3 linked regions of the Homo sapiens genome follow. The protein of the gene in region 1 binds, or shares a complex with, the protein of each later gene. Each region holds a gene or a part of one and is shown in the gene's direction. Other genes may lie near its edges. The genes, in order: FGFR3, KL and FGF23.

Evidence for each region.
Region 2: the proteins of FGFR3 (region 1) and KL are in contact, whole or in part, in a cryo-EM structure (PDB 7YSU), measured with the Homo sapiens proteins. Residues at the interface, in NP_000133.1 of Homo sapiens: Gln286, Leu288, His290, Val291, Val293, Gly299, Thr303, Pro304, Tyr305, Val306, Thr307, Val308, Leu309, Lys310, Glu320, Leu324, Ser325, Leu326, His327, Asn328, Val329, Glu332, Asp333, Thr338, Leu340, Phe347, His349; in NP_004786.2 of Homo sapiens: Ser539, Gln540, Phe541, Thr542, Asp543, Asn545, Val546, Tyr547, Leu548, Trp549, Asp550, Val551, Ser554, Lys555, Arg556, Leu557, Val563, Lys566, Arg568, Tyr571, Val573, Ala576, Pro580.
Region 3: the proteins of FGFR3 (region 1) and FGF23 are in contact, whole or in part, in a cryo-EM structure (PDB 7YSU), measured with the Homo sapiens proteins. Residues at the interface, in NP_000133.1 of Homo sapiens: Glu157, Arg158, Asp160, Lys161, Leu163, Leu164, Ala165, Val166, Pro167, Arg223, Asp244, Leu246, Glu247, Arg248, Ser249, Pro250, Val277, Tyr278, Ser279, Asp280, Ala281, Gln282, Pro283, His284, Ala312, Gly313, Ala314, Thr316, Thr317, Asp318; in NP_065689.1 of Homo sapiens: Ser29, Leu32, Gly33, Ser34, Trp36, Tyr43, Ala45, Ala47, Arg48, Asn49, Ser50, His52, Ile75, Arg76, Ser77, Glu78, Asp79, Ala80, Gly81, Val83, Val84, His117, Gln118, Thr119, Asn122, Gly123, Tyr124, Asp125, Leu158, Ser159.

What each region holds. Positions count from the first base shown.
Region 1 is NC_000004.12:1,791,201-1,794,945, forward strand, and holds the start of FGFR3 (fibroblast growth factor receptor 3 isoform 1 precursor), read left to right. Parts: upstream 1-2,092; 5' UTR 2,093-2,265; intron 2,266-2,582; exon of another isoform or gene 2,583-2,632; 5' UTR 2,633-2,734; coding exon 2,735-2,843; intron 2,844-3,745.
Region 2 is NC_000013.11:33,047,408-33,051,152, forward strand, and holds part of KL (klotho precursor), read left to right. Parts: intron 1-3,745. UniProt on the Homo sapiens protein: May have weak glycosidase activity towards glucuronylated steroids. However, it lacks essential active site Glu residues at positions 239 and 872, suggesting it may be inactive as a glycosidase in vivo.
Region 3 is NC_000012.12:4,373,105-4,376,849, reverse strand, and holds part of FGF23 (fibroblast growth factor 23 precursor), read left to right. Parts: intron 1-3,745. UniProt on the Homo sapiens protein: Regulator of phosphate homeostasis. Inhibits renal tubular phosphate transport by reducing SLC34A1 levels. Up-regulates EGR1 expression in the presence of KL. Acts directly on the parathyroid to decrease PTH secretion. Regulator of vitamin-D metabolism.

The sequences.
Region 1 (3,745 bases):
GGCTTTCAAGGACAAATGGGAGAGGGGCTGGGGAAGGGACACATGGGGACCAGACCCCTACTGGGCATTTCTGCCAAGGAGAGGATCCTGGTGAGGAAGAAAGCAGAAAGCTATGTGTTCACAGATGCACGGATGCTCCCCTCCCAGAGACCCGTGGCCGTGGGTGCAGAGGGAGTCAGTCCTTCTTGGAGGTACTGGGAAAGGAGCCTACAGCTCCACTGAGCCCTTCTGCCTACAGGAGGGGCCCCACTCAGCAGCTGTTCCCTGAGGGAGACCTGTCCACGCGTGAGCTCCTTCCCACAGTCCCATCCAGTCCCCCAGGGGAAGGGGCAAGACGGTCAGGTCAGGACCCACACGCATGCTGGTGCTTTCAGAACCTGATGACTTAGTTGGTTAAGAGAGCTCACACCTGCAATCCCAGCACTTTGGGAGGCTGAGGCAGGTGGATCAGTTGAGGTCAGGAGTTCAAGACCAGCCTGGCCAACATGGTGAAGCCCCGTCTCTACTAACAATACAAAAATTAGCCGAGTGTGGTGGTGCACACCTGTAATCCTAGCTACTTGGGAGGCTGAGACAGGAGAATCACTTCAATCAGGGAGGCAGAGATTGCTTGAGCTGAGACTGTGCCACTGCACTCCAGCCTGGGTGACAGAGCGAGACTCCCTCTCAAAAAAAAAAAAAAAAAAAAAAAAGAGCAGGGCCAATGTGCTGCTGTGCCTTGGGGAACGGTGTCCTGGGAGCGGACCTGGCTGGCAGTGACCTGGGGCTGTGCACTGGAGGGGGCTGGACAGTGCACTTGGAGGTGGGTGAGCCTGGGCCCCAAGACGGTCTGGGGACATGGGCTTGGCCAGAGCAGGAAATGAGGGTGGCCAAGGACAGGTGCTGAGCCACCGAGTCGGCACAGAGGGGTGGGCATGAGGGCTTCCTGGGAGCAGGGCCCTTCCAAGTCCCTGAGGTCAGCCCAGGGACACCCTGGCCTCTGGGAGATTCATGGTGGGGCTGTGCATGGGCTGGGTGGGGTCAGCAGGCAGCCAGTCACTGAGGGGCTTTCAGCGCCCATTTTCCTGATGAGCACCTCCAGTCCTGGAAGCCACAAGCCAGGCACGCAGCCCACCCGGCCGGCCCTCCCGGCCAGCTCACTGGCTCCCATGGGCCCCGGACCTCCTTGGGCTTTGCCTGAAGGTGGGAGCAGATGGCCTTTTCCTTGTGAGGGTGGACACAGAAGCCAACAGTCATGTGGGGTGAGGGGACCCAGGCACCTCCAGCGTCCCCCGCAGGGCAGCACCTTCCCCTCCTGGGAACCCACCCCTCTTCAGCTGGACTCTGAGCCCACCCCGTGGAGCCCAGAACCTCGGGCCAGCTCAGGCTCTGCCACCAGCTCTCTGTCATCCTCCCTCAGAGCCGGGCTGTGCTCCCCAAGCCAGGGGTATCCAGCCCCCGCTCTTCATCCTAGGCCGGGCAGGCAGCCAGCCCCAGGCCTGTGTCCTCCTTGGGGGGCGGGGGGTAGGGACCCCTCGCGCGGGGCTCTCAGGCGGCTTAGCTGCGTGCGGCCCCAGGTCAGTCAACGCAGCCTCTGCACCTCGCCGGTCAGGTACGCAGGCCGCGCCGGGCTGCCCCAGACCTGCGGCGCACACGGGAGGCTCAGCCTGGAATGCCGTCCTGCCCTCCTCCACCTGAGGAATTGCCGCTCACACCACAGGGTTCAGCTCCGCGGCATCTCGGCGAAGCCTCCTGACATCCCGACCCCCGCCGAGACCTCCCCTCTGAGCTCCTGAGCACAGCCCCAGGGGACCCGAGCTGCGCGCTATGCAAACACAGGCCTGCCCTCGCCCTCGGTGCGCCCCGTGCCCGCCGCCCCCTGGGCCGCCCCGCGGTGCGACTAGGGGCCTAGCCCGCCTGCCCCGGCTCCCACGCCCTCGAGACCGCCGGGCGCCCCCGCCCGGCCACGCCCCCTCGGATGCCCCGCTCCGCCCCGAGGGGGCGTGCCCTGCGCCCCCGCGAGCCGGGCGGGGACCGGGCGGGAGCGGGGCGGGGCCGGGGCGGGGCGCGGACCGTCCCCCACTGGCTGCGGCGCGCGGGGCAGCCCAGGCTCAGTGCGCGGTGGCGGCGGCGTCGCGGGCAGCTGGCGCCGCGCGGTCCTGCTCTGCCGGTCGCACGGACGCACCGGCGGGCCGCCGGCCGGAGGGACGGGGCGGGAGCTGGGCCCGCGGACAGCGAGCCGGAGCGGGAGCCGCGCGTAGCGAGCCGGGCTCCGGCGCTCGCCAGGTCCGTGCTTGGGGCCGGGCAGGCTCGCGGAGGGGTCCAACGGTGCTCGCGGAGGGGTCGGGGCGCGGCTGTCGCGGAACCACAGAGGTCCCTGCAGCGGGCCGGGCCGGGGCGCGGGCTTCCCGCTCCGGAAAGTTTGCCGCCGCCGCCGCCCTGGGAGGGCTTTGCAGCAGCCAGGGAGGGAAGGGGGAGGAGGGAGGGACCGCGGCGGGGAGGAGGCGGCCGGCGCCAGGCGGCCCGGGAGCCCTGGGCGGCGGCGGCGGCGGGCGGGGCGGCTGGGGGTCGGAGGGGTCGGGACGCAGGAGCCGGCCACCGCCGCTTTCGTCCCTGTCCGCCCCTCTAACGAGCTGCCTTCCTCCTCCTGTAGTCTCCCGAGCGGCGCCCGCCTCCCGCCGGTGCCCGCGCCGGGCCGTGGGGGGCAGCATGCCCGCGCGCGCTGCCTGAGGACGCCGCGGCCCCCGCCCCCGCCATGGGCGCCCCTGCCTGCGCCCTCGCGCTCTGCGTGGCCGTGGCCATCGTGGCCGGCGCCTCCTCGGAGTCCTTGGGGACGGAGCAGCGCGTCGTGGGGCGAGCGGCAGGTAAGAAGGGACCCACTAGGCACGGGAGAGGCCGGCCCGTGCGGGCAGAGGCGTTGGGGACGGGAACCGGCCCCGGGTCGGAGGGGCCGCCGGGTGTGAGTGACGCCCCGGGGTTAGAGCCCGGATTCCGCTGCCTCCTTGCCGGAGAGCGCGGCCAGAGCTAGCGCGGCGACTTGTGGTGCGCCCGGAGCCGCAGCTACCCTCCAAGTGCGAGGCCACCACGGGGAGCCAGGCTGGGGGTTGGCGTCCGCAGCCCCGATCCCCTGCGACTCCCTAGCCCTGGCCTGTCGGGAGGGCGCGGGGGGCCCCATTTCCACGATTCCCGCTGTTGTTATTCGGGTTCTGCGCAGACGGAAAGTTCCCATTGTTGGCGTCCCCCTCCCCCGGGCCCCAGTTTGTGGCCAGCTTCGGCCAAGGCGAGAGACCGGACTTCTAAGGGTGGGTGTGCGCGTCAGCGAAGCCCGGCCCCTGCCCGCCCGAAGAGGCAGCAGCCTCCAGCGTCCCCGCTGCCGACCCTGCCCCTGCCTGGGGGCCGAGGGCGCTTCCCCGTGGGTGCGCGCCGAGCTCCAGGCAAGCGAGGGGCGCGTGTCCCAGCGTCGCGGGCCCTAGACTGGGCTGGCGGTCCAGGTCCCGCGGGACGTCGAGGGTCTGAAGGGAGGTCCCAAGGGGCGAGGGGAGGGGAAGGGGCGCCCGGCCGGACCTGCACACGCGCCGCGGTTCCTCGTGGGCCGGGCCGAGAGCTCCGGTGCCGCCGCCGCGTACACCCGCAGCCGGCTCCGGACGGGCGAGGGGGGCGCGCACAGCTCAGCCCGGCGGCCGCGCGGAGGGAGGCCTTGGCCCGGTGAGCTCGCGCCCCACCCGGGCCGAGGCCCGAACAGCCGCTTCTTTGTACCTCGACGCGG
Region 2 (3,745 bases), on another chromosome or scaffold:
AGTGGCACAATCTTGGCTCACTGCAATCTCTGCTTCCCGGGTTCAAGCAATTCTCCTGTCTCAGCCTCCCGAGTAGCTGGGATTACAGGCACCTGTATTTTTAGTAGAGACGGGGTTTCACCATGTTGGTCAGGCTGGTCTTGAACTCCTGACCTCGTGATCCACCTGCCTTGGCCTCCCAAAGTGCTGGGATTACAGGCGTGAGCCACTGCACCCAGCCCCTAAAATCTGCTTTCATAGCATCTGTCTTGTACTTGGAACATTTAGTCCATGTGTATTTGAATATTTATTGATATGTTTGGGTTTATGTTTACAATCCTGCTATTTGTTTTCTTTTTGTTCCATGTGTTTTTTGTTTTTTATTTCTGCATCTTTTGGAAAAATCAGATTTTTTGGTAATTCATTTTTCTTATTTTATTGGCTTTTTAGAGAAACCTTTTAATATCTTTGTGAGTTTTAGGGATTACATTATTTATTCTTATTATTATTCCATTTAGAATTAATATTGTTAATCCCATTCAAAAATTTGTTTATTTCGCTTTTCAGTTCTAGAATTTTCATGTTTTCTTCAGTTGTTGTTTCTCTGTTGTTATTCTCCATTTGTTCATTATATCTATCTTTTCTTTGAAATCCTTAAAAATATTTATAATAGCTATTTTAAAGTCCTCTGCTAATCCCAATGTCTGGGACATCTTGGCTTCTGTTGATATTGAATACTTCTTTTTTTCCCCTTAATTAAGGGTTTCATTTTCCTGCTTTTTCACATATCTAGTAGATTTTTATTATGCTCTGTGTGCTATGAATGAGATATTATAGGAAGCCTGGTCAATATTGTCTCTTTTTAAAGGGTGTTGTATTTAGTTCTGCCAAGAAGTTAAATTACCAGATTTACTTGATGTGGCTTTAGTCTTTGTTAGAGCTGGTCTATTCCTGCTTTGTTCTTACTTCTCAGGTAATGACCTTCCTGAGTTTCAGCTGGATGCCTGAAGTGCTCAGCTGCATTTTTCTACTCTGGCTATTCTGAAATGCAATATTTTCCAGACCTACCCAACCTTTGGTATTCATCTCCCAGACCTGTGGCTGCTTCTCTTTGCTGAGCCTCACAAAATCTTGTCCTGTGCATGGACAGCCAAGGATCCTTGGGAAATCTCATGCAGACTTCTAGGTCCTTCCTTTGTGTAGATTTCTTCTCTCCAGTACGTTGACCTGCTTCAGAGTCCTCATCATTGCTTTCTTCCTTTTCAGCTCAGCAATACTGCTGTGTATTGTGTGGGCTTCATTTGCCTCAGCCATACCTAGAACACAACCCAAGGCAGAAAGCTGGAGTGGACCTGAGGCTCATCACCTGTTTCCTTCCACCCACCATTTAAAAGCAGCTTATTTGTGTGAAACTTTTTGTTGGGTTCTGTGGGGGATACGTATAGGCAAATGACAGGGAGCTTATAATTTAGCCAAAGAGAAAATGTCTATATGTTCTGTGGAATTCAGAGTATTTTCCTCGACTTCCAAAATTATTTTCCTCGACTTCCAAAATTTGGGGCTACTAGCTAGTTGGTAGGAAGGAATTCCAGATCCATTTTTCTTCTAGATTTTTTTCAGACTCCATGTTTCAAAATCTAGATGGAAGGTAAGAAGGAAGCAAGGAGGGCATCACATACGAGAGAGACTTATACCCCAAAGTGGATCATTAGCACATTATGAGATAATATGGTATTATTCTCAGAGGCCTGCCATATAAAATTCCTTCTAATTTATTTTTTAATGGTATGTGCCTGAAAGTTTTCTGTCTTTCATGATCTTGAAAGCAAAATAAGAACCAGAGTAGCTTATGAGAGAGTTTTCCTGCTTCAGCCCAGAAAAATGTTGCTTCTGTCCTAGACCCTTTGATCTGGTTCTTAGTGCCAGCCTTCATTCCTCTAGATCTGTTTATTGAATACTGGCTCTGTTGCAGAGACTTTGCTAGAATCTGAGAGATAAAAGACTCAATGCCTTCAAAACACCTACAATCCAGACACTTAAATAAATGCAATAATATATGGTTAAGGTCTTGGATAGAGGACCATCATAGAAACACATAGAACAGACATTTAGTCCATGCTAGGGAGAGGGAAGATGTCAAGGAATGCTTCCTGGAGGTGGCGACATCTAAGCTGAGTTTTAAAGTGGGTGTAAGAGTGAAGGAACTGGGAATAGGCAAAACATACCTTAGAGAGCTGCACCTCCAAAGCATGGAAGGCTAGATAATCTTAGAACTTCAAGTGGGGTTCAATGTGCCTGGGACTTGGATTTCAGGCAGAGACCATAGGGCAAGTTGGAGAACAGGTGGGCAGGGTGAGATGAAGCAGAGACTTTTAATAACCATCAAACAGGCCTGCCATCCAACTGCTATCAGCCATTTTCCCTTTTTGAATTTTATTTTTTTAATCTCTAGAGCAATACATGTTTATGGTAGGAAATGAAAAAAATATATAGATGGGTAAAATGAAGTGAATTATACCACCCACAATCCTGCTGTAAAACAGGTTTTAACAAGTTATAAATCCCTCCAGATCAAAGTGCTACTAAACTCTACTTGCTATTTTATAACCTTTTTCTGTTCAGAGTATTTTAGAAACGTTTTTACATGTTAATTGATATTCTTTTGCATTATCCTGAATAATGGTATTTCTTTAGTTATACTATCATGTATTAAAACATTCATACATGGTAAACATATTTGAATATTAGACATTTCAATTGTTTTCAATGTTTGGCTATTAAAAATAGTATTTAGATGAATGTTCTTGGCCATACAGTTAATAACTTCACTGAGTCCTTGTCAATAACTTTATTAAATCCCAATCTTAAGACAACAAGCCTATAAGATTAACATACCAGGAATAATTAGAAAGCATTGCAAGACTATATGTAACCATCTCCCTGTTAATCATCCTTATTTGTTGCAACATCCTAAATAGCGACCTTCCCACACTCTGCCTCATAATATTTAATCTGTCAAATGTACCATCCGCAAAGGGAGTGAACTGGCTCGTGAAGAGGTGGTGAAGCTGGTTCAACTCAGTTTAACAGACAATGAGGGCCTCCGTGTGCCAGGGAGGGAGTGAGGGAACTCCACAGGGAGCTCATTCTGGGGAGGGATGCCCCTCATTATCTGCAGTAAATGATATTAGAGAAGTATGTGTGAGACTCTTGGTGTCCAGAGGAGGGGCATGCAGCACAGTATGGGGGTCCATGGGGTTGCAGCGATTTCTTAGAGACGGTGCCATGCCTGGGATGACCACCAAGTTAGGATGCTGTAAAGAGTAATCAAATAAGTTTCAACAGGGTTTTGGCATGAGGTGAGCAGTTAATCCAAATGATATCTGAAATGCTTTCTAATGCTGCAAGTGTATTCCTCTGTAAAATAATCAACTACTTAAAAGACACTCTCACTTGCATTATGTCATTTAATCCTCACAGTGTCCCTACGGGACAATAGATGTCATTCCCACTTGTACAGAGCAGTAAGTGAGGCTCACACCGGTCATAGTTAGAGGAGTAGGGAATCTAAACCTAAGTCTCTTCTACTCCAAACCCCAAGTTTTATCAGTATGTCACATCGCTACTGTGGGCTGAATTCCTTAGCAGGGGTTGTTTCCTCCACCTGCAATATTCTTCCTTTTGGTTTGTTCATCCTCTAGAGAGAGAAGGGATACGCATTCATGGAGATCCTACTGTTGCAAACTCTGCATTAGGAGTTTTACAT
Region 3 (3,745 bases), on another chromosome or scaffold:
TACACACTACAATTAAAAGTTACCCAAAAGAGGCCAGATGCGGTGGCTCACGCGTATAATCTCAGCACTTTGGGAGGCCGAGGTGGGAGGATCACTTGAAGTCAGGGGTTCGAGACCAGTCTGGCCAACATGGGGAAACCCTGTCTCTACTAAAAATACAAAAATTAGTGGGGTGTGGTGCCTGCCTGTAGTCACAGCTACTTGGGAGGCTGAGGCAGAAGAATCGCTTGTACCCCAGAGGTGGAGCTTGCAGTGAGCTGAGATCGCACCACTGTGCTCCAGCCTGGGTGACAGAGTGAGACTCCGTCTCAAAAAAAAAACGTTACCCAAAAGAAAGAGGAAAGATTAATGCATGTAGATAAGAAGCACAACTAATTAAATGTCTGGTGAAGGATTTGTAATGACCTCATCAGTGACTGTTAAGCAATGTTTTTACACTGATGGAAACCTAAAATGTGAGGGGTATTTTTTCCCCTCCTAATTATCCATTTCTATTGAATTCTGGTTTATCTTATTACTTTGCTGTAAGAAATTCTTAAGAGTTGAGTGCACAACCCATCTTTGGGTCACTGGACTTGACAAAATGAAGTTATCTCCTGCCTACCAGATTCTTCAAGCTCCCTTAGGACTCACAAGCGCTGCTGCCAGGTACCCCTCTGGTGTCCTTATCACCCGTTCCATGAACAAGGCCATCCTCTGACTCCCCTTTATCCTTATTATATGGAAACAGCAAGAGAGAGATGCTTATTGTCCCTGGTAATATCATTTCCTAGATCCTGCTATTTTCACTTCCTCCATCTTCCCCATAGGAACTATCTTTATTGAAGCTGAATTACCGCTGAGCTCCTTCAGCCTTTTTCATACGTTTTTCTTTTGAGGTGCTCAAAGCACTTCACTGCTATCATCTTATTTATCACTTACTGGCCACAAGAGTAGAATGGAGTAGATAATTTTCTACTTCTATAAGCAGAGGTTGAAGCAAAGTGGTAATAGTAAAAATTACTAGCACTTAGGAAGTGCTTTCTAAAGGATAAAAACATTATCTCATTATGTCTTCAAGATGACCAAATGAGGTAAATGTTTCTGCTGTCCTCATTTTATATGTGAAAAAACAAGAGTTAAAGAACTTAAATAACTGGCTGAAGGTCAGACAGGTAGTAAAAGACCTAGAGGACACCTTGACCCCAAATCCCAAGCTGTTCCAAGGTCACACGCACGGAGACACCTCCGTCATTGAAGGCAAAGTCCATTAAGCCTGCTCAGCTCCAACAGGCGGGGCTGGTTGCTCCGGCAGTCCATGGTTTGTTCCTTCCTTCTGCAAAATTCTCCCTTGAATCTGTGCAGACTGCGAAAAGATGCCTTTTGAAAGCACAAAGGAAAGAAACTCTGACTCTCTCACATTTTCTAAACTTTCACATTGGCTCACACTGTTTGATGGAAGAGTCTGTGTGCCCTCCGTAGCAGCTTCTCACAGTTCCTCAACCACCGCCGGATGTTTTCTAGGGGGACTGGCTCTGGAAACCAGGAGCGTGTGTGCCATACACACTGCCCACACTGACCCCAAGCATCAAGCCAGCACACCTGTCAAGGCATGGGCCCGGCATAAACAGCAGGTCAGAACACGCCACGTGATGTCCTCTGTTTGCTCGACACTTTCGAGTCACTTTTACCACCATTATCCCCTTCGATCATCACCCTATGAAGTAGGCAGGACAGCCATTGTTCTATTTCACAGCTGAGGAAACTGAGGCTAGTGCAAGGTCAGCAAGTGGCACAATTGGGACCAAAATCCAAGTCCCCTGGTTCTTGGCACCTGGCTCAGTGCCCCTTCCCCGAGCCCTTAGTGCTGCTGTGACTCCTTGTCCTCACTGCCTGCAGCATGTATTTTAGCATTTGATATTGTCTTCTCAGACTCTTAGTGATTTCTGCTGGAGGCTTGTTACCGGGTGGTGGGAAGATGTCTCTGACCTGAGTTTCAATCCTGTCTTAGTTTCCTTATCACTTAAATTAGGATATTGCTGCTACTACTACTACTAATAATAATAATAATCAGTACTAACAATATAAAATTTGTTTTGAGAATTTAAAATATGTAAAGTGCTTAGAGTGCAACCGCTCAAAGACCATTACTAAATGTAATTTTTTCCCAATTAGACTGAAAAGTCACCAGAACAGAAACCATTTCTTTTTTTTTTTTTTTGAGACGGAGTCTCGCTCTGTCGCCCAGGCTGGAGTGCAGTGGTGCAATCTCGGCTTACTGCTAGCTCCGCCTCCCAGGTTCATGCCATTCTCCTGCCTCAGCCTCCCGAGTAGCTGGGACTACAGGTGCCCACCAACACACCTGGCTAATTTTTTTTGTATTTTAGTAGAGAAGAGGTTTCACCGTGTTAGCCAGGATGGTCTTGATCTCCTGACCTCATGATCCACCCGCCTCAGCCTCCCAGAGTGCTGGGATTACAGGCATGAGCCACCGCACCCAGTCGAAACCATTTCTTACACGTTCCTTATATTTCTCCAAAGGTTTACCACAAAACTAGCCATACATTTGAGACACATAGGCAGACACCACTGTGGAGGAATTTAAGCATCCTTTGCGCCTGTCATACCCCAGTCCACTTTCTGGGAAGCTTTCCTCAAGGTTCCCCTCAGCCAAACTTTGAAACAAATTAACTTCTCTCTTTGGCCCTCTTCCTTTCTCACCTTTCTGGGGCTTGTCTCCACCCTCATTCCCTCTGTTCCGCGTCAGTCCAATTTCAGTCCCTATCATGATTTCTACTCAGCTAGTACCTAATTATTGCTGCTTATTTTCCTCAAAGGTCCTTGTATTGAGCCTGCATGGGATAGGAGAAGAGCTTTGGCCTTTAAATCACCCCCACAAGGCTCCATCACTTGCTAGGCACAAACATTGGGCATTTACAACCTCTCCAAGCTACAGTTGCAGAAGAGGAATTAGAATCCCTGCATGGGATTCTAGCTGCCTCCCTGGAGGCTATGAGGTCAGATGAGATGCACCTAGAAATTCTGTGATAGGCAACTGGAAGTAGCCCCAAAGACCTAAAGTAATGATTTTTAACAGAAAATGTCAGGTAATTAAATAACATGTGGGGAAGAAATCTCGCTGAATTATCACGCATGTTACACCAGTATATGATCTAATTGTGCCTTTGCCACAAAACAGTAATTTAAAGCCATTATCAATTACTTAAGAGGTAGGTCGTGTGAATGGGTTTCAGGCCCTTGTCGGAGACTAGTTTTTGAGAGGGGACACTGAAAGTCCATGAGGGGCTGCACCTGGAGAGGTCACCACCAAGTGAGAAAATGACAAAGAACCAACCCAAGAAGAGCCAAGAAGAAAATTCCATCCGTCACTTATATTGATTCAACATAAACAGTTATACCCTCTGCTCCTAAGCAGCTCACTCTAAGGAACGCACTGGATAGGTAAACTCAGCTAAAGCAAGTTAAATGGAATACATGCTGTAATAGAGGTGAAGGCATTGTCCTGAGGAGCTGAGAAGGAAGAACAACTGATTTTGAATGGAAAGATGAGGAAAGTCTTCATAGAGATGGTGACGCCTGAGCCTGGTCTTGAAGAGTGAGTGACTTCAATAAGTAGAGAAGGAAGAGGGAGATCAACTCTACTACCATTCTGTACACATACTGGGTGTTGACTGATGTATTAGACAATTACACAGACATCCAGGAGGAGAATCAGACTCTATGGCAAGCTGGATCCTTGAAAGAC